2 linked regions of the Homo sapiens genome follow. The protein of the gene in region 1 interacts with the protein of each later gene in a biochemical or structural test. Each region holds a gene or a part of one and is shown on either strand. Other genes may lie near its edges. The genes, in order: PLCB3 and TRPM7.

What was found.
Region 2: the proteins of PLCB3 (region 1) and TRPM7 form a complex in vitro, tested with the Homo sapiens proteins (one study listed by BioGRID).

What each region holds. Positions count from the first base shown.
Region 1 is NC_000011.10:64,250,487-64,262,212, reverse strand, and holds the start of PLCB3 (1-phosphatidylinositol 4,5-bisphosphate phosphodiesterase beta-3), read right to left. Parts: upstream 10,684-11,726; 5' UTR 10,564-10,683; coding exon 10,465-10,563; intron 7,799-10,464; coding exon 7,721-7,798; intron 7,466-7,720; coding exon 7,397-7,465; intron 7,316-7,396; coding exon 7,175-7,315; intron 6,980-7,174; coding exon 6,900-6,979; intron 6,818-6,899; coding exon 6,764-6,817; intron 6,673-6,763; coding exon 6,597-6,672; intron 6,493-6,596; coding exon 6,392-6,492; intron 5,838-6,391; coding exon 5,671-5,837; intron 5,596-5,670; coding exon 5,449-5,595; intron 3,741-5,448; coding exon 3,500-3,740; intron 3,329-3,499; coding exon 3,244-3,328; intron 3,156-3,243; coding exon 2,969-3,155; intron 2,185-2,968; coding exon 1,979-2,184; intron 814-1,978; coding exon 717-813; intron 633-716; coding exon 548-632; intron 262-547; coding exon 137-261; intron 28-136; coding exon of another isoform or gene 1-27. UniProt on the Homo sapiens protein: Catalyzes the production of the second messenger molecules diacylglycerol (DAG) and inositol 1,4,5-trisphosphate (IP3).
Region 2 is NC_000015.10:50,555,477-50,567,202, forward strand, and holds the end of TRPM7 (transient receptor potential cation channel subfamily M member 7), read right to left. Parts: intron 6,333-11,726; coding exon 6,202-6,332; 3' UTR 1,682-6,201; downstream 1-1,681. UniProt on the Homo sapiens protein: Bifunctional protein that combines an ion channel with an intrinsic kinase domain, enabling it to modulate cellular functions either by conducting ions through the pore or by phosphorylating downstream proteins via its kinase domain.

The sequences.
Region 1 (11,726 bases):
GAGTCGGGAGCTGGGTTCCCCTGGGATCTGGGATGAGACAGGGTCAGAGGTCCATTCAGGCAAGACCAGCAGGATCGTGGGTCAGAAGTCAGTAAGACTGAGGGTCGGGGTCAAGATGGAGGGGGCCAGGGCTCACCGAGGGTCTGGAAGTTGAGCGCAACAAGCTGGCACCCTACGTTCCAGAAGAGCTGGGGCATGTAGTTGGAGGAGTCCACGCGGGTGCCCTTGGGGTAGATGCGGCTGAGCTGCTGCTTGTTGTATCTGAGATTGGTGGTCAGGGGCCACACAGGTGCCAGGGCCCACCCCATCAGCCTCCACCTCCGGCCTCAGCCAGGTGCTCCTGTGACCCCCACACCCGGCCTCTGTTTCTTAGCCTAGCCATGCCCCCTGAGACTGCCTGGATCTGCCCAAGCCCCAGGCCAGGGTGCAGGAGGGCCGCCGGAGGGCCAGCACCCTGTGCAGGTGGCATATGTGGGGACAGAACACCGGAGCCGGCCTCCGAGCGCCCCACCCTGGCCTGCCCGCCCACAGCACCTTCAAAGGATACTCCACAAACTCCATGGGGCTCTTGGTCAGTTGCTCCATGGCCTTGGTCTCCACAAAGGACGACATCTCGAAGCATTTGTTCCTCTCTTAGGGGTGAGCCAAGAAAGGGCGTCAGACCTGGCAGGGCTGAGCTGGGCAAGCTCCCATGCCTGCCACCCACCCCCACTCACTTCGAGCAGCCTCAAAGGACTTGAACTTGACAGGTTCGATGTAGTTGACAAGCGTGGACATCTCCTCAGTGGCATTCACCTCGCTGCTGGCTGTGCCCTGTGGGCCCCAACCCAGGGTCAGCAGTGCCATTCCCGCCACAGCTGGCCATTCCCTCACCTGCCCCCCATGAAGGAGGTGCTGACCCTCTTCCCAGCACTATATACACACTGCTGGTGGTGCCGACAGTCTTCTCCCCGGGGTCTCACTGATGCGCCCTGGACACCACCCAGCTCAAGCAATTTTCCTGCCTCAGCCTCCCAAGTAGCTGGGATTACAGGCGCCCGCCACCTTGCCCGGCTAATTTATGTATTTTTAGTAGAGATGGGGTTTCACCATGTTGGCCAGGCTGGTCTGGAACCTCCCAACCTCAGGTGACTCGCCCACCTCAGCCTCCCAAAGTGCTGGGATTACAGGCATGAGCCACCTCGCCTGGCCCATATAGGTGTTATAATTATCATTACTTTTACTGAATCATTTGGGAGTAAATTATAGACATCATGACCCTTTACCCATAAATACTTCAGCATATATGGACATTCTCTTCTATAACTCCAATACAATAATTAAATTCAGGAAACAAAACATTAACATATTATCTAATATGTAGTCCATCTTTAAATTTCACTAATTGCTCCAGTAATTGTCTTTATAGCAATGATGTCTTTTTTTTTTTTTTTTTTTTTTGAGATAGTGTCTCCCTTTTTAGCCCACGTTGGAGTGCAATGGTGCAATCTCAGCTCACTGCAACCTCCACCTCCCAGGTTCAAGGGATTCTCATGCCTCAGCCTCCCGAGTAGCTGGGATCACAGGTGTGAGCCACCACGCCCAGCTCAGACTGATTTTTTCTGTACCATTCCTCACAGCTACTCAATGCTCCCCATGACAATGCTCCCCGCTCCTGCACCCCCTGGCCCTGCCCCAGGACCTTTGTACATGCTGTCCCCCTTCCTGAGGTCTCCCTGCCCCACCTCCCTGCCCAGGGTAGACTCCCTATCCTCTGCCAGTTCTGTACCCTAACTCGCACCTCCCAGGCCACATCACCAGCAGAACTGTATGCTTGTTTCCATGCCTGATGACTGAAGAGCCCTCCTCCCACCTTCACTCACACCCACACTGAGCCCCAGGAGGCAGGGGTGATGTCAGTCTTGTTGATGGTCAGACCCAGCCCCCTGGGAGGTAAATAGATGCTACCTCCCCGACCTGCCCACCCTGTGGGCCTGACCTCATCTGTAGTTGGCTTTTTGGGGTCTGTCTGTTCCTCCTCTTCCTCATCTTCCTCCTCATCCTCACGGTCAGCAGGTCCAAGAACATAGGGGCCTCGGTTCAGGCCCTCGTCACCCAGAGACTTCTGAGGCTCCAGGCTGGGCTTCTCAAGCCCTACCTCCTCCCCATTGCTCAGGCCTGGGCAGCTGTCAGAGCTGGGAGACCCTGCAGAGGACAGGGCCACAGGGTGAGGGGTCAGGACCACACAGCTGCTTAGGAAGTCTGGAGGGGTTTTTCCCAGTGTGTGCCGAGGTGACTCAGTGGGGAATTCAAGGGGTACTCTCAGGGCAGTGTGGCTTGGGGAGAGGCCAAGAGGTCGAGGTCAGATGGTATTAACCCAGTATGGGTTGAGAGGGGTCATAGGTCAAAGGTAAAGGTCTGCAGTGATATTCAGCAGGGAGGCAGATAGGGTGGTTCAGTGGGGTGAGAAGTCAGGAAGTAGCATACCACAGCCCTAATAGCGGGGTAAGGGATGACATAGAGAGGTTACAGGTCAGGGGTAAGTCAGAGCCATGTCTAAGGAGGGGGCATAGTGAGGTGAACAGTCAGGGGTGAGAGGTCAGAGGTCAGCTGAAATGATAACCAACTGGGCAGGTGAACTCAATGCGGGCTTAGGGGTCTGAGGTCACACCCAGTGTGGGATGTGGTTTACTGAGGTCAGAGGTCAGCCTTCAGAGCCATCACCGGGTTGTGGGAAGGCTCTGAGAGGTGAGAGGCTGAGGTTGGGAGTCAGGAGTTGGGGTGCAGCTGGGTGAGACGTGCACCTGAGGTCAGGGGTCAGAGGCCCCACACCAGCCGACAGGTGGTGAGGAGACAGGCCGGTTGTGGGAACAGGCGCACAGCGAGGCAGGAGGGTGGGCTGGGGGTCTGGGATGAAGTGTCACGGCGCCTGGAGCATGAGGCCAGAGGCTAGGGTCAAGTCAGGGTGGCGGGCCGGGCTGGGGCCTACCCAGCTGCGGGGAGGAGGGCTCGGTGGCCGCGGAGCTCTCGCTCAGGGCAGAATTGCTCTGCTCCAGGGGCCGCTTGCGCCCGGCGCTGTCTGGGCCACCTGCGCTGGGTCGGTGCCGCTTCTTGTTCTTCACCAGGATACGGCCCATCAGGTCCTGGGGGCTGGGCAGGGGAACGCCTGGGGCCAGCTGGGCAGGCATGGACGAGTCAGGGCCCTGGACCGGGTCCGCAGCACCCTGGCCCCCATGCCACCCCCCTCGCTCCGAGCTCCCGTACCGGGTACTTGTCCAGAGGCTCGATGAGTAGCGCGTCTCCAAAGATGGAGCGGCAGTACTCAGCCATCTTTGCCTGTTGCTTTGCCCTGCGGAACCGAGGTCAGAGGTCAGAGATCCCTCCCCCAGAGAGGAAGCTGAGGTCTACGGGACATGTCAGTGGCCGTTCGCAGGGTTGGAGGTCCCTGAGCAGTCCAACAGCACTGAAGCTGGAAGACTGTCCCCCGGTCCATGGGGTTTCATGCCAGGGGCTCACTCACGAGTCCACATGGTTCTCGAAGGAGAGGATGACGGGGTAGGGCGAGGTCTTGAAGGCAGTCTCGGCAATGGCCTCCAGCACGTCGCGCAGAGGCACCTCTGTGGTCATGGTGAAGCCGTGGGTAATGAAGGGTTCCTCCTCAGGCGGCCGTCCCTTCCACACGTCCAGCTCCACGCAGCGGCAGCCCCATAGTAGTGCCTGGCGGTACATCTCCACCGACGAGGTCCCAGCCAGCTGCCCCGCTGGGGCGGCGAGGCTCTGTCACCGAGGCCGCCCACCAGCCCAGCTCCTCACCACCCCGGCCCCACCTGGAACCAGGACATGCTGGATTTGCAGAGGGCTCTCCATCTCTCAGATGGATACCCACCACCTGTCCATCCCACCAGCGTGAGCTGGGGGGAGTCATCCCTGAGACTCACTATAGCTCCCCACTGCCTCAACAATCCCTCCCTCTCCTCACTCCCTCCACCCACCTCAGCCCTGGCACAGCTCACACCACCTCCTGTGTGGAAGACTCCAGCCCTCCCTGCCTCCAATCCAATCTCTTTTTTTTTTTTTTTTGAGACGGAACCTCGCTCTGTCACCCAGGCTGGAGTGCAGTGGCACAACCTCGGTTCACTGCAACCTCCGCCTCCCTGGTTCAAGCGATTCTCCTGCCTCAGCCTCCCGAGTAGCTGGGATTACAGTTGCCCACCACCATGCCTGGCTAATTTTTGTATTTTTAGTAGAGATGGGGTTTCACCATGTTGGCCAGGCTGGTCTCGAACTCCTGACCTCAGGTGATCCACACGCCTCAGCCTTTCAAAGTTCTGGGATTACAGGTGTGAACCACTGTGCCTGGCCTCAATCCAATCTCTATAGAGCACCTGGCATCATCCTTCTAAAAACATATCATATCAGGTCACATCACCTCTTCTGCTTCACCCTCCAAAAAGCCTCTTCCTCACACCCAGGATGAATCCAAGTGCCTCTAGGCCCCTGGGCTTAGCCCTGCCTTGCTCTCCCTCTCTTAGCAGGCACCTATCTCCAGCACTCTGCACCCTGCCGCACCAGCTTCCTTTCTGCTTTTTTATTATTTATTTAATTTTTTTTTTTAGAAAAGGGTCTCTCACTCTGTCACCCAGGCTGGAGTGCAGTGGTGCAATCACAGCTTACTCCTGCCTCAACCTTCCCAGAACCAAGCGATACTCCCACCTCACCCTCCCAAGCAGCTAGGACCACAGGCATGCGCCACTATGCCCAGCTAATTTTTTAAAAATTATTTGTAGAGATGGGGTCATGCTATGTTGCCCAGACTGGTCTCAAAACGTGGGCTCAAGTAATCTGCCTGCTTCAGCCTCCCAAAGTTCTGGGATTACAGGCATGAGTCACCGCACCCAACCCCCTTCCAGCCTCTTAAAAGCACCCTGCAGGCTGGGCGAGGTGGCTCATGCCTATAATCCCAGCACTTTGGGAGGGCGAGGCAGGCGGATCACCTGAGGTTGAGAGTTTGAGACCAGCCTGACCAACATGGAGAAACCCCATCTCTACTAAAAATACAAAATTAGCCGGGCGTGGTGGCGAATGCCTGTAATCCCAGCTACTTGGGAGGCTGAGGCAGGAGAATCGCTTGAACCTGGGAGGCAGAGGTTGCGCTGAGCCTAGATCGTGCCATTGCACTCCAGCCTGGGCAACAAGAGCGAAACTCTGTCTCAAAAAAAAAAAAAAAAAAAAAAAAGGACCCTGAAGTCTCTCCTGCTGCAGGCCCTAACACAAGCTGTTCCAGCCCTTCCCTGGGAAAGCCACCATGAGGCCCCACTGCTCAGGGCTGGCTGCCTGTTCCCTGCCTGCATCCCCAGCACTGGCCAATGAATGAGCAAATGGGCCAAAAGGACTGTGCCCCAGGAGGAGTGGGGCTGTGCAAGGGTCACAGGGCAGAGGTCACGGGTGCCACCCTTGCTCCCCACTCACCAGTGAGATAGGTGTTATGCGAGGAGTTGATGAAGTAGGCACTCAGTGGCTGGGTCATGTCCGTGCTCAGATCCAGGGCTTCCAGGGGCAGGATGCCATTCTCCTCGCCTCCCAGGTAGCGGCTAAAGCCCTCCATGGACATCTGGTCTGGGGTGGGAGAGGATCAGCAGGGTCAGCTGGGGTCCCACCTGCCCCCACCCACCTGCACCCCAGCCAGCTCACCTCGCTCCAGAAACTGCTGGTTGGGCTCATACTTTTCGATGAGCAGCCGGGCCTGGGAGGGCCGCAGGGGCGGGTACAGCACTTCGTTGAGTCTCGGGTCGCGTTGCTTCTGGTTGATGAAGTCCATGAGCTGCTCCAGCGTCAGGTATGGCTTGCCCTTGGCGCCTCTGGAGGGGACAGGAAGCTGGGTCAGGATGGAGCCTGGCAGGGCTCCCACCCCGTCGCCAAGCCCTTGCCCTGGGCAAGGGAGTCAGAAGGCCTGCCCCTGGATCTGGCACCCAGTGAGTGGGACTCTGGGTGAGTCATGGCCAACCTCTGGGCCTCAGTTTCCCCCTTTACTCTCCTGACTACTCAGGATTGTCAAGGCAGCAGACTAGTGGGCACCAGCAATGGCCAGGGCTTAGGAGCTGCCAAGTGGTCAGCCCACCACCCCTCGCTTCCAGACCTCACAACACACCTGAGGCTTGGACCCCATTGCAGAGTGGGCTGATTAAACCAACCCTGGCACAGGGTTAGCCCAGAGCTGCCTGTAACTGAGGGGCAGAAACGGCGGGTCTGAGTACAGGAACATCACCGACAGGTTCTCCCTGGGCACCCCTCCGCCCCCTGGCGCTCCAGGACCCGGCCCACCAGTTTCCCCTCTCCCCATTGAGCTAGAGGCACGCTAAGCAGAAGCTAAACACAGAGCACAGGGGTTGTGAGGCAGGCCGGGCCCACTCACATCTCCAGCAGGATCTTGTCAATGTCCGGCCGCAGACACAGCTTGTTCAGGAACCGCTCAAAGATTTCCAAGGAAAACTCATCAGGCCGGATGGACTCACTCTGGAGGTCGAGGAGTGTGGGGTGAGAAGCCAGGGGCGGGCAGCCCCGTAAGGGTGGGTGCCCACCGTGACACCCCACCCCGCCCCTGTCCCCACCCCACACACCCGGTTGAATTTGAGGCCACAGGATTCCAGCGCAGTCTCCACCCGCTTCTTGTCTGCTGAGAACATCTTCAGGATGCTGATGCGGGCAGGAGGGGTTCAGGGTCAGTGGAGGACAAAGGTCACCAAGGTCAGGGCAGGAGGAAGGTGCTGGGGGAAGGGGTGCTCACTTCTTGACGGGGATCCGACCATCCTGGTTCACCTGCAGCTTCAGCTTCGTGTATCTGGGAAGGCAGATGAAGAGGTCACACCCTGAAAACGGCCACGTGAACCCCCCGGCTCCCCCTCGGGTGGCCTGGGGCTCACGCTTTGCGCAGGAAGGTGTTCCGGGAGGCGTTCTGAGCCAGGATGTTCATAGCCAGCTTGAATAGCTCCTCAGACCAGACCTGGGGGGCCAGTATACACGGGGAGGCGGTGAGTGGGGGACACAGGGGCTGCCCAGCCACAACCCAGGTCCACAACTGCCTCTGGTACACAGTAGGTCACAGAGCAGCCTAGAACACAGCAGGTGTTCGGTAAGTGACGGCCGACTCACAGAATAAGACAGTGACTCCCCCTTCGTCCCCTTGGTGCCAGCCCACCTTGGCTGTGTCATCCTGCACGGCCATGAAGTTCAAGAACACTGTGTTCACTGGGTCTGGCCCAGACACCACCGTCATCAGCTTCTCCTCCAGCCGGGCATCGGGACCCCCAAAGCCCAGAACTTCCCGGATCTTGGGGTCCTGAGTAGGTGACAGCGAAGGGTGAAGAGGGGGCTCCCGCACAGCCTCGCTGTGGTCTTCACTCCCAGGCTCATCACTCACCTTGGGCAGGCGGGCGTACCGGCCTGTCCGTGTGTCCCTGATGGAACTGATGTCCAGTGTGTCCACCTCCTGGGGGGAACCAGATGCCAGGCTGAGTATGAGAGGCTGCAGGGCAATAGCCAGGAGCTTCCAAGCTCTCTACCCAGGCCAGGGAATGGCCAGCCCCTGGCTATAGCCCCAGCCTCAGCTCCTGCCCTGAGCACTTCCTGTCTGGGCAGCAGTGGGAGAGGTCAGCCTGCAGCCGGGCCCCACCCCCACGGGCAGGGCAGGGGTCTGGGACAGGGGTCCTTGGCCTGAGCGAGCTGCACCAGCGCCCACCCTCACCATGTTGGGGCCCGTCCAGTACAAGAAGAAGCCATTGGGGTCCACACGCAGGGTCACCAGGTTCCGACTGGAGGTCTCCTGAGGACAGCACAGGGCAGCAGGGGTCAGGAAGTGAGGGCTGTGGTGCAGGCCTGGCCCCTGGGGCCCTCCCATCATGCACCCCAGAGTTCCTGCCCATGAGCTAAGACGAAACCTCATCCAGTCCACAGGTCCTGTGTGGCTGCCTGTGGCCCTCAGAACAAAGCCAAGGTCCTAGGTGTGACATTTAGTGTCACACCTACCTCAAAGCCTCTTCCCAGCCTCACCTCCCTCTGGCCCTAGGATTCTACCTGACCTTTCCCAGGGCTTTGTCTCATGTTCCCTTTGCCAGGACACCCTGCCCTTCCTTCTCCACCCGTGAAATCTGACCCACCCCCTGGAAGAGGTCCCCAGCCCCCATCCTGGGCTCAGTTTCCCCAGAAGTGCTGAGAGCTCTGTGACAGTGGCAGCCCCCCAATCCACCCCACTGCAGAATGTTTAAGGCATGAAAGTGAGAAGTCTGACTCCCACTGCCCTTCTGCATCCCTTGGGACATCACGATAGCCCTGTGGTCTGCCTCAAAGCCCATTATCCACCTTACCACATCTGCCGGGGTCCTCACAGCCTCAAAGCTCATCCCCATCTCGTAGAAGAACAGTCCCCCTAGAAGGGGACTTGCCCTACTCTCAGGACTGGGCAGTGAGCTCTTCCTCCCTCAAACAGCCGTGCAGCTGGCAGGGGGCAGGGAAGTGCATGCCAGCCCCATTTTCTAAGAAGGGCCCGGTCCCTGGCACACTACCAGGGCCACCCTGTGTGACTCAGGACCAGCAGCCAGAGGGGCTGTCCTCCAGGGCTTAGACTCGGCCAGGGCCAGAGTGAACAAGTGGCTACAGGTAGAACCCTCCTATTCCAGGTTCTTCCAGACAGAAAAGGACCCCACCTCATGTTGGGTGCCACCCCCAAAATGCATCTCAGTGTCTGGTGGACAATACTATTATTATCAATACATCTCATATACGCACACCGCCCCTACTGCGCACCAGGTACAGTTCTATGCACCTAGCATCTTCGAGCACACAAAGGCCTCCTAACCAGCCTAAGAGGCATGTGCTGTTGTCACTCCCATTTTACAGATGAGGACACTGAGTTACAGGGACACTTCGTAGCCTGCCCGAGATCACTGGAGCCAGGACCTGCTTGCAGGCAGTGTGGTTGCAGCGTCCTGTGACCTGGGAAGCAGGGAGCGGAGACTTCTGCCAGGCTCCCGGCTCCTGGCCTCAGCCACACCCCATTGTGGGGCCTGGGATAACTCTCTGCTTTCCAGACCTCAGTTTCCTCTTCTGGAGAATGGGGATTGCACCAGCCCCACCCATGGCAGGCTTTGCTTACAAAAGATGGGCGTTCATCTGGGAACAGAAGGCCCCCAAAATTTGGGGATGCATGGGCCTCCCCACTTCAGTGTGCTGACACCCAGCCCCAGCACTTCTCCGGATTCCCAACCCTACCCTGGGCCTGAGGCCCCCGAATGGTGTGCAGAGCGGGGAGTCTATGGGTACTGCCCCTAGTGTTTCCCTCCCACCTCTCCCCAGGGGTCTGGACCTCAAAGGCAGCCCAGGTCCCCTGCTCTCCTGCCCCAAGCCTCCGTCAGCACCCCCCACCCCACCCCCAGGGCCCTCTCCCTGTTCCCACTTCCTTATTTGGGTTTATCACAGTGGAATGAAAAGAAGAAACTTTTCCCTTCAGGCCAGCCTGGGGGGAGGGGTCTCCCCCGGCCCCTGGGGCCCCCAGGCACCCCACCTCGCACACCTGCCGCTTCAGGCCACGCCCCCATCTCCTCCCCCCAGCTCCCACGCCTACCCCGGGGCCCCACCCAGCCGGAAAAGAGCCCAGAGTCTTCCAGGCCCGTGGCCTGACTGGGAAGGAGCTGCGAGGAAGCTCAGGCCGGCCGGGTGGAGGCCCTAGGGAAGGAAGGGCCCAGGGGGCAGAAGAGGATGCACCCAGGATGGGGATGGGCAGCCGAAGGTGGGGACACAGGCATTTGGGAAGCACCAGGGGCAGGACAGGGAAAGGGGGGCCAGGATGTATTGGGGTTCAAGGTCCCAAGCCTAAGGAGTGGGGAGCAAAGTTCCCAGGGGTGGAGGAACTTGGGGGGCAAAGTCTCCACTAGGGGGTGACTGGGTGCTCCCATCTGAACAGGGAGCTGGGCTGGGATCCAGAAGCAGGGCGAAGGGGTGCCAACCAGAACAGGGGGAAAAATGATGAATGGACGAGGACTGTTCAGGCAGGGCACCGGGGAGAGTAGGGGCGCCCTGGCACACACCCAGAATGAGGATGCCCCCAGCCAGCCTGGAAGTCAGGGTCCTGCAGCCGGGGAGTCTAGTGCTGGGCAGGGGTCTGGGCACCAGGCCAGGATCGGGGAACGAGAATTAGTCTGGCAGGGAGCGGTGGGAAGAACGAATGGAAAACGGGGGGACGGGGTTTATTGGGGTTCAAAGTCTCTGCGCCAAGGAGTGGAGGCAAATTTTCCAGAGCTGAGGGACTGGGAGTTGGGGGGACAAAGTCTTCATTACGGAGACGATCGGGGACTTAAGTTTCCGGGGCGCCGCCAGACTGGGATGAGGGTGGCGCCACGGGCAGGCGAGGCTGGGGTGGGGGTCCCCAGCGTCTGGTCGAGCTTGACTGAAAGAGTCCCGGGATTTGGGCGGAGCAGGGGCCCGCGCGCTTACCTCGTCCCATTTGATGAACTTACTCCCGCGCCGCAGGGTCTCCACCACGGTGGGCGGCTCCAACTGCAGCGCGTGGACGCCGGGCTGGGCGCCCGCCATGGCCCGGCCAGGGGCGGGTCGGGGACCCACGGAGCCCTGACGGGGACCGACGGCGCCGCTGCTCCCACCGCGCGGCCCGCTCCGGCCCCGCGGCGTCAGTGCCCGCCCGCCCGCCAGTCTGTCCCGGACCGACCAGAGCCTCGGCGGGGCCCGGGCGGGGCGGGGACGGGGCGGGGCCTCCCGGGCCCCGCCCCCTCCCACCGCGTCGGCTCCCCCTGGCGGCCGGGGCGGCGACTGCAGCCGGAGCGGGGATTGGGGCAGGGGCACGCGGACGGGTCGGGGGCTTTGCTGCGGGGCTCAGCAGAACCTGATTCTTCAGGCCTGTGGTGGAAGGAGGGCGCTGGGGGCCGAAGTGGCTGTTGGGGAGCAGCTGGAGGGACTGGGTGTAGAGGGCGCTGCTTAAGGCGGTCCGGGATCAGCCCACTGAGGTTTCCGAGCGACTAGGGCTGCAGTACCAGCGGAGGGCTAGACTTGGGCCGGGGGGTCGCTGCACAGCCCTGTCGCCCACCCTCTTCTGCCGCACTTAGCTGAATGCAGGAAAAGCTTCTTCCGCCCCCCTCTGCCCTGGCTTCGCCTCACCCACTCTTATGCCGCGCGGTCCCCCCTCCCTGGGAGCACTTAGCCGGCTAATGGACCTCCCGCCGGCAGGCACCCCTCCCCCGTCCCTAGCCCAGGGAGGCCGGGCGCCTGCCACCTCCTTTAAGGACCCAAGCATCCTGGTCTTCGAGAGTGAGCCCTAGAACAGCCCCCTTCTTGTTGCTGCAGACTCCCATGACTGGAACCTGACTGTGAGCCTCTTGGCTGGGAACCGCGGGGGGAACGCTGTTGTCTGCCCAGAGGGGTCAGAAGCTTTGTGGATGTCCCCAGACAGGAGGGTTGAGGAGGGGCTCTGCAGTGCCTGGCCCACAGCAGGTGCCCTGAAATCTGCGTTCCAGAGATGGGAGCGGGGAAGGCGCATGGGCAATGGGATGGGTGGGGGCTGCAGCCCCTCCCGCAGGGCTTAGCTGGTGGGGGGGGTTCCTGCCTGGGGGCCCCTGTGGGAGCCCCCCCAATACAGAGGCAGTAACAGCAGCAGGTTTAAAGTAGAACTCATCCAGAGGGGCCAGCCAAGTCACCTAGAAACCCAGAAAGAGATGCAGCTGGCTCTGGGGGAGGAGGGGTCA
Region 2 (11,726 bases), on another chromosome or scaffold:
AAAGCACAAAAATTAGCCGGGCGTGGTGGCTCATGCCTGTACTCCTAGCTACTTGGGAGGCTGAGGCAGGAGAATCACTTGAACCTGGGAGGCGGGGTTTGCAGTGAGTGGAGATCACGCCACTGCACTCCAGCCTGGGCAACAAGAGCAAAACTCCGTCTCAAAAAAAACCAAAAACCAAAAAACAAGTTTTAATATCAACACTACTGATTTCATTAGGAAAGTATTAGGAAGCTGTAGTGCTACTGGTGTTAAAGTCAAGTTTTCCAAAATTCCAATTTTCACTTGATTCATGGTAAGGTTCTGGCAGTTTTACCCATCACTGCTTTTACTCCATCAATAAAACTCTCAATACAGCGAAAAAGGCGAATAATATCTTAGTATTATAAGTTTTGACCTTATGTTATGTACACCTTGAAATTGTCCTGGGGAGACTCTCAGGGGTCTGTGACCCACCATGAGCACCACTGACCTAATTAATAATAGACCTAGGCAATGACTATCAAAAAGACAACCAGGCATGTGTTTCCTAACAGAATTATATACCCCCACCAATGAAGCATTCTTACCAAAAATTCAATACTGAATCTGATCAAGCCTTTAGACCTAACTAACCACTAGTTTATGACATATGCAGGAAACAATCAGCAAAATCTCAAATGTAGTAAACTTTTCAGGACAAGTAAGTTGGTTCTTTAAAACATAAGCAGGGGGCAAAGATGAGACAGAGAACCTACATACTAAGAGACTTTAAAAACAAGCAATTGTTGGCTGGGTTCAATGGCTCACGCCTATAATCCCAGCACTTTGGGAGGTGAAGGCGGAAGCAGGTGGATCACTTGAGGTCAGGAGTTCGAGACCAGCCTGGCCAACATGGTGAAACACCGTCCCTACTAAAAATACAAAAATTAGCCTGGTGTGGCAGCATGTGCCTGTAGACCCAGCTACTTCGGAGGCTGAGGCAGGAGAATCATTTGAACCTGGAAGCGAAGGTTATCACTCCACTGTACTTCAGCCTGGGCAACAGAGCAAGACTCTGCCTCCAATAAAAACAAAACAAAACTAGCAAGGAACTGCAATGTATGGACCTTCTGTGTCCTAATTAAATTACTTAAAACAAATTTTTTTTAGAGCAATGATTACATATTTGACAATATTTTTGGTTAAACTTTCAGGTGTAATAATGTTATAGTTCTTAATCTTTAAGAAACATATACTGACATAATTAAAATGAAAGAAAAATTCTGTAATGCAGGATTACACAGAAATTCCAAGGGAAATACAAGGAGAGAGCCTAATGTTGGTTTGGACAGCACAAGAAGAAAGTGCTCTGTTCACTGGTGCTATTTACTGTTAGCCTGAAGTGTGTGGCTTTTCTGAAGAATAACCACATCCTCTCCCATCTTCATGCCCACCAATGTGGAATCATGGGCCCCAGGAATGGAAATCTGCTTTAAGGAGTTTCCAAAGAAGTTAGAAAATCATATTCTAGAGAGGACCAGAGCCTTAGCCTGGAATTTTCCTAAGAAAAAGCTCACAGATCATTTGGGACCTTTAAATACAGATGCCTTGTTGAAACCCAGCTAGGAAGCAATAAGATCAGATATGGTAAATAAGGAGAAATTCAAAAATCCCTGTTGTGTAGACACATCATTTTCTGTAAATAATTACTTGATCTTTCTTTCAAGTGGTAAATAGCCATTTATTGAGTATTCTTGCTTTGATTGTCTACGTAAGCATGTAAGACTACAACATTACGACCCATCTCTTCAAGAGGAAGTCTGGTATTATGGAAAAACATTTTGTCATTCAGATTTTTTTTTCTTACAGTATGCCCATCACAAACCAGGCAGCAAGCAAGGTATTGGGTGCTACTCAATCCAGTGAAGTCTTGAGGGTCCCTTCCCTCTGTGAAGCATATAATCTAGTGGGGTAGACTGCTAGCTACTAACTATGAAAACAACATAGTCTGACTTGAGAGTGGGGAAAGTGGAACAAGGGAGTAATTTTTATATTTTTCTTCACATTTAAAAATATTTTCTAAACAATCCAATATAATCTTTTCTATAATTTCCAATACAATCAACATGTATTACTTGTAAAATAATAGCATACATATATCGACAGACTGAAGAAGGTATACTATTAGAGAACATTTGCAGAAAAGAATTCCACATCTTTTTTTTGAGACAGAGTTCTGCTGTCACCCAGGCTGGAGTGCAGTGGCAGCAATCTAGGCTCACTGCAACCTCCACCTCTTGGGTTCAAGCAATTCTCCTGCCTCAGCCTCCTGAGTAGCTGGGCCTACAGGCACGCGCCACCACACCCAGATAATTTTTGTATTTTTAGTAGAGACGGGGTTTCACCATGTTGGCCAGGCTGGTCTTGAACTCCTGACCTCAGATGATCCACCCACCTTGGCCTCCCAAAGTGATGGAATTACAGGCGTGAGCCACTGCACCTGGCCGAGAATTCCACATTTTAAGAATATGGTAAAAGAGTTTTATTCTCTTCAGTAAGATGAGGTTGAGAATAAAAAATTAAAAAGATTAAGCAAATGACACTTTCACATCATAGGGTAGTAATAATGAACTTTAATAATCTTAAAAAAATACTTATTGGGGATAAGAAATGTGGTTTACAAGTAAACTGTTACTTTCTAGACTTAACCCAAGAAGTTAATGGAGTAGGTGTGTTTCAGTAAAGTAACAGGAAATGGTACAGAAACCACCAATGGTCATCATGCTTGAGAGTCAATACAGCACATAATTCACAGCACAGATGAGGCTGGGTGCAGCAATTCATGCCTGCAATTCTACCACTTTGGGAAGCTCAGGCGAGAGGATCACTTGAGCCCAGGAATTTGAGACCAGCGTGGGCAACAAGGCTAGACCCCATCTCTACAAAATATATATTTAAAATTAGTTGGGTGTTACCCAGGCATGGTGGCTCACACCTATAATCCCAGTACTTTGGGTAGCCGGGGGAGGTGGATCACTTGAGGTCAGGAGTTTGAGATCAGCCTGGCCAACAAGGTGAAACCTTGTCTCTACGAAAAATACAAAAATCAGCCAGGCATTATGGTGGGTACCTGTAATCTCAGCTACTTTGGAGGCTGAAGCACGAGAATTGCTTGATCTTGGGAGGCAGAGGTTGCAGTGAGCCAAGATTGTGCCACTGTACTCCGGCCTGGGCAACAGAGTGAGACTTCAACTCAAAAAAACAAAAATAAATAAAAATGAAAAATAAAAAAATATATATATAAAATTAGGTACGTGTGGTGGTGCATGCCTGTGGTTCCACCTAATCAAGAGGCAGTGGCAGGAGGATTGCTTGAGCCCAGGAGTTTACGGCTGCAGTGAGCTATGATCACGCTACTACACTCCAGCCTGGGCAACAGAGCAAGAGGTTGTCTTTTTTTTTTTTTTCTTTCTGAGACAGGATCTCACTCTGTTGCCCAGGTTGGAAAGCAGTGGCATGATCTCAGCTCACTGCTGCCTCAGTCTCCCAGGCTCAAGTGATCCTCCCACCTCAGTCTCCCAAGTAGCTGGAACTACAGGTGCACACCATCACATCCAGTTATTTTTTTTTTTTTGACGGAGTCTCGCACTGTTGCCCAGGCTGGAGCGCAATGGCACGATCTCAGCTCACTGCAACCTCCACCTCCCAGGTTCAAGCAATTCTCCTGCCTCAGACTCCTGAGTAGCTGGGATTACAGGCACTCACCGCCATGCCCAGCTAATTTTTTGTATTTTTAGTAGAGACGGGGTTTCACTATGTTGGTCAGGCTGGTCTCGAACTCCTGACCTTGTGATCCGCCCACCTTGGCCTCCCAAAGTGCTGGGATTACAGGCATGAGCCACTGCACCTGGCCTAATTTTTGTATTTTTTTTTTTAGCAGAGATAGGATTTTGCCATGTTGCCCAGGCTGGTCTCAAACTCCTGAGCCCAAGTGATCCACCTGCCTTGGCCTCCCGAAGTGCTGGGATTACAGGCATGAGCCACCATGCCCCACCAAGACAAACAAAACAAAACAAAACAAAACAAAACAAAACAAAAACAGTATAGATGAAAGGCAGCCAGCCTGGGTTCAAATCCTACCGTTGCTACTTATTATTAAATAAACGTAAGAATCTTATGGACGTTACTTTACCTCTCTAGCACCTTGACTTTCAAATCTGCAAAACAGGATAATAACACCTATTTCTTTATAACATTGTTATAAGGATTAAGTAGGTTAATATATGTGAAATACTTAGAGTAATGTCTGGTACACAGTAGGCACTAAATAAGTGTTAGCAGCCAGGTGCGGTGGCTCACAAGGTCAGGAGTTTGTGACCACACTGGCCAACATAGTGAAACCCTGTCTCTACTAAAAATATAAAAATTAGCTGGGCATGGTGGCGTGTGCCTGTAGTCCCAGCTACTCGGGAGGCTGAGGCAGGAGAATCACTTAAACCCGGAAGGCGGCGGTTGTGGTGAGCTGAGATCGCACCACTGCACTCCAGCCCAAGCAACAGAGCGAGACTCCGTCTCAAAAAAAAAAAAAAAAAAAAAAGTATAGCTACTATTATAATCCTGTGAAAATAATCAATATAAAATTAAAAATCAACAGACAGCCCATATTGCCCTTTTTTGGCCTAACAAAAAACAGATTTCTAAGAAGACAGTAAGAAATCAGTATTAATTTAAACATTGTACAGGACAGGAGATCAAAAGCACAGGTATACAAATGGTTCATTTAAAAAAACTGATACTCAAATTGACACCCTGAAAATGTCAGATAATTTTTCAGAATGATTAAACTCACTAAACATCTGTAAACAATAAATTTATTTCATTTCTTTTAAAGATTTAATGATATACAAAACGTATATAGTATCTTTAAGTAATACACTTTTTCTTTCTCCCCACCCCCAATCAATATTAAACACTATTTAAACAGCTTATCATCTCTTGCCTTGTCTGTATCTATGAGATACACTACTAAATACAAATAAGCTTTATACTGCTCCCTTCCAAATAAAAATTAAAATTAGTACCAAGGAAACAAAAGAAAAAGAAAAAAAAAGAAAAAAAATTAAAGCATAAAACTTAGATGAAAAGCTTTTCTTGTTATTGTTGAATATTCAACAATATCTGGGGCTGTTAAATTACATTTTATTGGCATAAGGTTGCACTGCAATCTGCCAGTATCACATAATGATAATCCAACTGAATTAATTTCTTAAGTACCACAAACAGCATTCATGTTCAAATGTTCCAACACAATTTTAAATATATGCAAGAGTTCATGTTTACATTCTGATTTGATATAACAATCAATAAAATCTTTGGAGAAGTTTGTAAGTTCTGGGTTGTTGCTATAGATACAGATAGGGAAAAAAGTACTTTAACTTTCCTCAAAAGGTAACTTCCCTTGACGAGTGAGTTAGGTTTCTGCTTTTATAATTTAGGTTATGTATCAGTTTACCATGGCTTTCTTCTACTTAACAGTGACTTGATAAAACAATGTTTAAAAAACCCAATTAACATTTTTACACAATTTGGGTTCTATTTAAAAAAAAAAACTGGCTCTATCTTTAAATATGGAGCCTAACCCTGATTCATAAATACCGTCCCTCTTGAAAATGGTCTTCAGTTCAGGCTTCTCATACCTCTGTGAACCTAGAATTAGAACAAGTCATTTCCCTTCCCGTGGCCAACAAGCATCTAGTTGGGAACCAGTGATATCATCACTGAACACACTAAATACACTGAGGAAAATTTTGACTGCCATTTAACCAAAAGGCTGCGTGATTTCTTCATTTCCCTAGTTGAATGGCAATAAAACAGCTGCCAATAAAATCTGCATGGACACCTACCTTTGGTTAATGGTATTGTACCACATAAGAGAGAGCATCACCCTCATCAAAACAAAGTCAAATGAGATCCTCTGCTATACAAAGAGCCCTTTAAAAAGTTATAAATACTAATTATCAATTACCTTTAAAATTTCTCAGCTGCCAGCTCTATCCTATAGGGACTTTCTGACTGATTAATCAGGTCAAAAGAATATTGACCTTTTAACTGTGCTGGAGTCAGCAAATTCAACTTGCATACACCTTTCTATATTACCAAACAATTTCCTCCCGAGGGAAAAGTGACACAGTAACATTTCTGTGAGGTGCAGGCAAAACCAATGATTCAGTAATATTAATATTATAACATCAGACGAACAGAATTAGTTGATTCTGATTCTTTGGTGGAATTTCCAGGCTGAAGATTCAAATCTGAAGGCTCATCCTGAGGAAATATAATTTTATCAGGCGTATAATCATTCCTCTTCAGATCTACATTGAACACCCACAACAATTAAAAAAAAAAAAGAAAGAGAAAAGAAAAAAGTTAGTATTTCTTAGAAATGGAGAATTAGGAACCTTTTATTTTCTTTTCAAGACGGAGTTTCGCTCTTGTTGCCCAAGCTGGAGTGCAATGGCGCGATCTCGGTTCACTGCAACCTCCACCTCCCGGGTTCAAGCGATTCTCCTACCTCAGCCTCCCAAATAGCTGGGATTACAGGCATGCACCACCATGCCCGGCTAATTTTTTGTATTTTTAGTAGAGACAGGGTTTCACCATGTTGGTCAGGCTGGTCTTGAACTCCCGTCCTCAGGTGATCCACCTGCCTCGGCCTCCCAAAGTGCTGGGATTATAGGTGTGAGCCACCATGCCCGGCTGAATTAGGATCATTTCTAATCAATTTTTCTCCAAACATGTCAGACTTGTTTTCCATCAGGTTGTTATAAATTCAGTAGTCACCAAATTTATACACATAAAAATGAAGTCATTCATTCATTCAACAAATAATTACATATTGACCATGAGTCAGAAACTCATGTAGGCGTGGGAATGTAGCAGTGAACAAACCAGACAAGCTCACTGGTCTCAGTGAGCTTATATTCTAGTGGGTGACAAAAAATAAGCAAACAGAAAAATGACAGAATTATAAGCAGTAAAAAGTGCCTTGAAGGCAGGGTGCAGTGGCTCATGCCTGTAATCTCAGCACTTTGAAAGGCCAAGGTGAGAGAATCATTTGAGGTCAGGAGTTCAAGAGCAGCCTGGCCAACATGGTGAAGTCTCTTGTCTCTACAAAAAATACAAAAATTAGCCAGGTGTGGTGATGTGCGCCTGTAGTCCCAGCTACTCAGAAGGCCGAGGTGGGAGGACTGTTTGAGCCCCAGTAGGCAGAGATTGCAATGACCCAAGATCATGCCACTGTACTTCAACCTGGGCGACAGAGTGAGATCCTGTCTCAAAAAAAAAAAAAAAAGTGCTTTGAAGAGAAGAGTGTAGTGAATTATAATGAGGGACAGATGGAAGATGGTATAGGGTGATTGTTTCAAACAGGTCTGGGCAGGAAAGCCAGAGGAAGAGATTTGAGTAAATACCTTAATATTGAGAAGTGAACTATCAAAGCTCTAGGAGGAGTGTTCTAGGCAGAGGGAGGGTTAACTGCAAAGACTGTCAGAAGGAATGGACTTAGTGTGCTTTGCGAATGGTAAGAAGACAGTGTGGCTTCTACATAGTGAATGAGAGGAAAACTAGTAGAAATTGAGCTCAAGCAGCAGTTAATGGCCCAAGATTGTCAACTACAGATTGTGGGCCAAATCTGGTCTGTTGCCTGTTTTTGTAAGTAGTTTTACTGGAATGCAGTCACACTCATTTGTTCACAGTCTGTGGTTATTTCCACACCACGACGGTAGAACTGTGTAGCTGGGACAGACCACATGGTCTACAAAGCCTAAAATATTTGCTACCTTGCCCTTTACAGAAGTTTGCTGATCTTCATTTATACATCATAGATACAAGCTATGATGAGAAGTACAGATACAATACAAATCCACTGGAAGGTTTTAAGCAGTCTCAAGAGAGGAACATCATCAGATTTGTTTCAAGAACTATTCTGATGACTATGAAAACTCTTGTGAGAGGATGGGTGGCAGCAGTCCAGGAAACAAGGTGGTAGCCATGAAGACAGAGAAGAGCAGATGAATTCTAGGGAGATTTCAAAATTAGAACAGACAGAATTTGATGAATTGGCTATGAAGGGCAAGGGAAAAGAAGAATTGGATAGTTTTAGGTTTTGGACTTGAGCAACTGGGTAACCATTAATAAGATAGGGAAACAGAGTTCTATGTAGGGTGGGAGATATAAATCAAGAATTTTGGATTGGACACGTTACTAAAGATGCTTTATAGCAAGCCTGCCCGACCCTCGGCCCACAGGCCACATGCAACCCAACACAAATTCATAAACTTTCTTAAAACATGATGGCATTTTTTTGCATTTTTTTAAGCTCATCAGCTATGGTAGTGACAGTGTATTTTATGTGTAGCCCAAGACAATTCTTCTTTTTTTTTTGAGACAAGGTCTTGTTGTTGCCCAGGCTGAAGTGCAGTGGCACGATCTCGGCTCACTGAAACCCCTACCTCTGTGGTTCAAGCGATTCTTGTGACTCAGCCTCCCCAAGTAGCTGGGATTACAGGCCTGTGACACCACACATGGCCAATTTTTATATTTTTAGTAGAGACTGGTTTTTGCCATAATTGGCAAAGCTGCTCTTGAACTCCTGGCCTCAAGTGATCTGCCCACTTCGGCCTCCCAAAGTGCTGAGATTACAGGCATGAGCCATGGTGCCTGCCCAACAATTTTTCTTCCAATGTGGCCCAGGGAAGCCAAAAGGATGGACCCCTCTGCTTCAGCCTGGGTGACAGAGTGAGACTGTCTCAAAAAATAAAATAAAATAAAATAAAATAAAATAAAATAAAATAAAATAAAATAAAATAAAATAAAATAGTATCCAAGTAGAAATATAGGTAGCTGAACAGAAACAGGAGCTTGGGAAATATGTCAAGTCTTCAGACAGATTTGCTATGATAAGTACATAAACATATTTATAGGTATGGGACAAGAAGAAATCACTTAAGAAGTTACAGACATAGATGAAAATAGTTGCAGAACTGGAAACAATGCAGTAATATCAACATTATAAACTAACCAAGTCATGCATTAACATATATATATGTATGTTTTTATTTTTTTAAAAAAAAGGATACACGTGCAGAACATGCAGGTTTGTTATATAGGTATATGTGTGTCATGGCGTAAACCCTTATATTTTTATCTCCATATAAAATATAACTGATACTCAGAATATGAACTAATTTATTTTTTAAAAAATAAAAATATTTGACCTCACTGAATCATAAACTGTTAATTTTAATCTAAGAAACAGCCTATATTAAACAATCCAAACATATTTGCAACTATATTAATTATTTTTGATAAATTTTAAATTCAAGACTATGTCAGTATGGCTTTAGGGATATAAGCTAATCTGCGATTACTGTACAAAGAACAGTGGAGAGAAACACAATTATAGCTCACCTTAATTATATTGTTAACTAGTAAGTGTATCAATGAGCAAATCATCTCAACTTTAATTATATTATCTAGAAAATGAAGGATCTGGGCCAGATTGCTTTTTTTTTTTGAGATGGAGTCTCACTCTGTCTCACAGTGGTGCAATCTCTCCTCACTGCAACCTGTGCCTCTCGGGTTCAAGCAATTCGCCTGCCTCAGCCTCCCAAGTAGCTGGGATTACAGGCACCCACCACCACGCCCAGCTAATTTTTGTATTTTTAGTAGAGATAGGTTTTCACCATGTTGGCCAGGCTGGTCTCGAACTCCTGACCTCAAATGATCTGCCCTCCTTAGCCTCCCAAAGTGCTGGGATTACAGGGGTACCGTGCTGGCTTAAAAAATGGAAACTGTTTAAATTTAAAACAAAATCAAGAACCTCAGTATATGCTGTCTACAAGAAACCCACCTTAAATATAATTATATATAGATGTGTGTGTGTATGTTTTGAAAAAAAGACTGGCAAAAGGTATATGATGAAAACATTAATCAAAAGATAGCTGGAGTGGTTATGTTAATATTAGAAAAAGTATACGTCAAAATAAGGAAAATTACCATGATATTATTAATACACAATGATAAAATAATCAATTCGCCAAGAAGACATTAACAATAGTATATGTGTATGCATCTAAGAACAACGCCTCAAAACACATGAAGGAAAAACTGACAGAACTGAAAAGCAAGACAGACAAATCCAATTATATTTGGAGACTTCCTTTCTAGTTAATCAATAGAACTAATACACAGAAAACCAGCAAGGATACAAGAACTCCGAACACTAGCAACAAACTTTAATTAATATTTACAGAATACTCCATCCAACAATAGCAGAATATACATTACTTTCCAAAGCACATGGAATGCTCAGAGACCATAAACTCTTTTTGTTTTTTTTTTTTTGAGACGGAGTCTTGCTCTGTCGCCCAGGCCAGAGTGCAGTGGCGCAATCTTGGCTCATTGCAACCTCTGCCTCCCAGGTCCCAGTGATTCTCCTGCCTTGGCTTACTGAGTAGCTGGGATTACAGGCACCCACTGCCACACCCAGCTAATTTTTGTATTTTTTAGTAGAGATGGGGTTTCACTATGTTGGCCAGGTTGGTATCGACCTCCTGACTTCAGGTGATCCACCTGCCTCGGCCTCCCAAAGTGCTGGGATTACAGGTGTGAGCCACTGAACCCAGCTCCATAAACTTGTACTTCAATTAAAAAAAATTTAATTGAAATAGTACAAAGTATGTTTCTTTTATAATAGAATTAAGCAAGAAATCAATTAAAGACATTTGTAAAATTTTAAACTATTTAAGAACTAAACAAGACAATCCATACATCAAAGAGGAATAACAACTGAAATTATAATTATTTTAAAGTAAATAAAAATGAAAATAAAATATACTCAAATTTGAGGGATGGAGCTAAAACAATGCTTAGAGGGAAAATTATAGCACTCAATCTCTTGTTAGAAATAAACATCTGAGGCCGGGCGCAGTGGCTTACACCTGTAATCCCAGCACTTTGGGAGGCCGAGTCGGGTAGATCACGAGGTCAAGAGATCAAGACAATCCTGGCCAACATGGTGAAACCCTGACTCTACTAAAAGTAACAAAATTAGCTGGGTGTGGTGGCACGTACCTGTAGTGCCAGTTACTCAAGAGGCTGAAGCAGGAGAATCGTTTGAACCTGGGAGGTGGAGGGTGCAGTGAGCAGAGATTACGCCACTGCACTCCAGCCTGGTGACAGAGTGAGACTCCATCTCAAAATAAATAAATAAAATAAAGATCCGAGAATCAATAATCTAAGTTTCTACTTTAATAAACTAGAAAAAGAACAAACTACACCTAAAGCGAGTATAAACATGGAAAAATAAAAAGAATAAATCAAATAAATTGAAAACAGAAAAGCAAGAGTAAAACAATGACAACGAAAACTGATTCTTTGAAGGTATCAATAAAATTGATAAACCTCTAGCCAGGCTGATCAAGAAACAAAGAGCACAGACCAAACTGCCATAAGGAAAAAGGGGATTTGCCACAGACCTAACGGATATTAAAAAGATAGTAAGGTAACAGCATAAATAACTTTATGCCCCCAAATTTGACAATTAAAAAAAAAAATGGACCAATTCCTTAAAAGACACAAACTACCAAAACTCACTCAAAAACAATTTGATAATCAACAGTCCTATCTCTATTAAAGAAATTAAATGCTTAGTTTATTTTTTTATTTTTTATTTTTAAAATTATTTTTTATTATTATACTTTAAG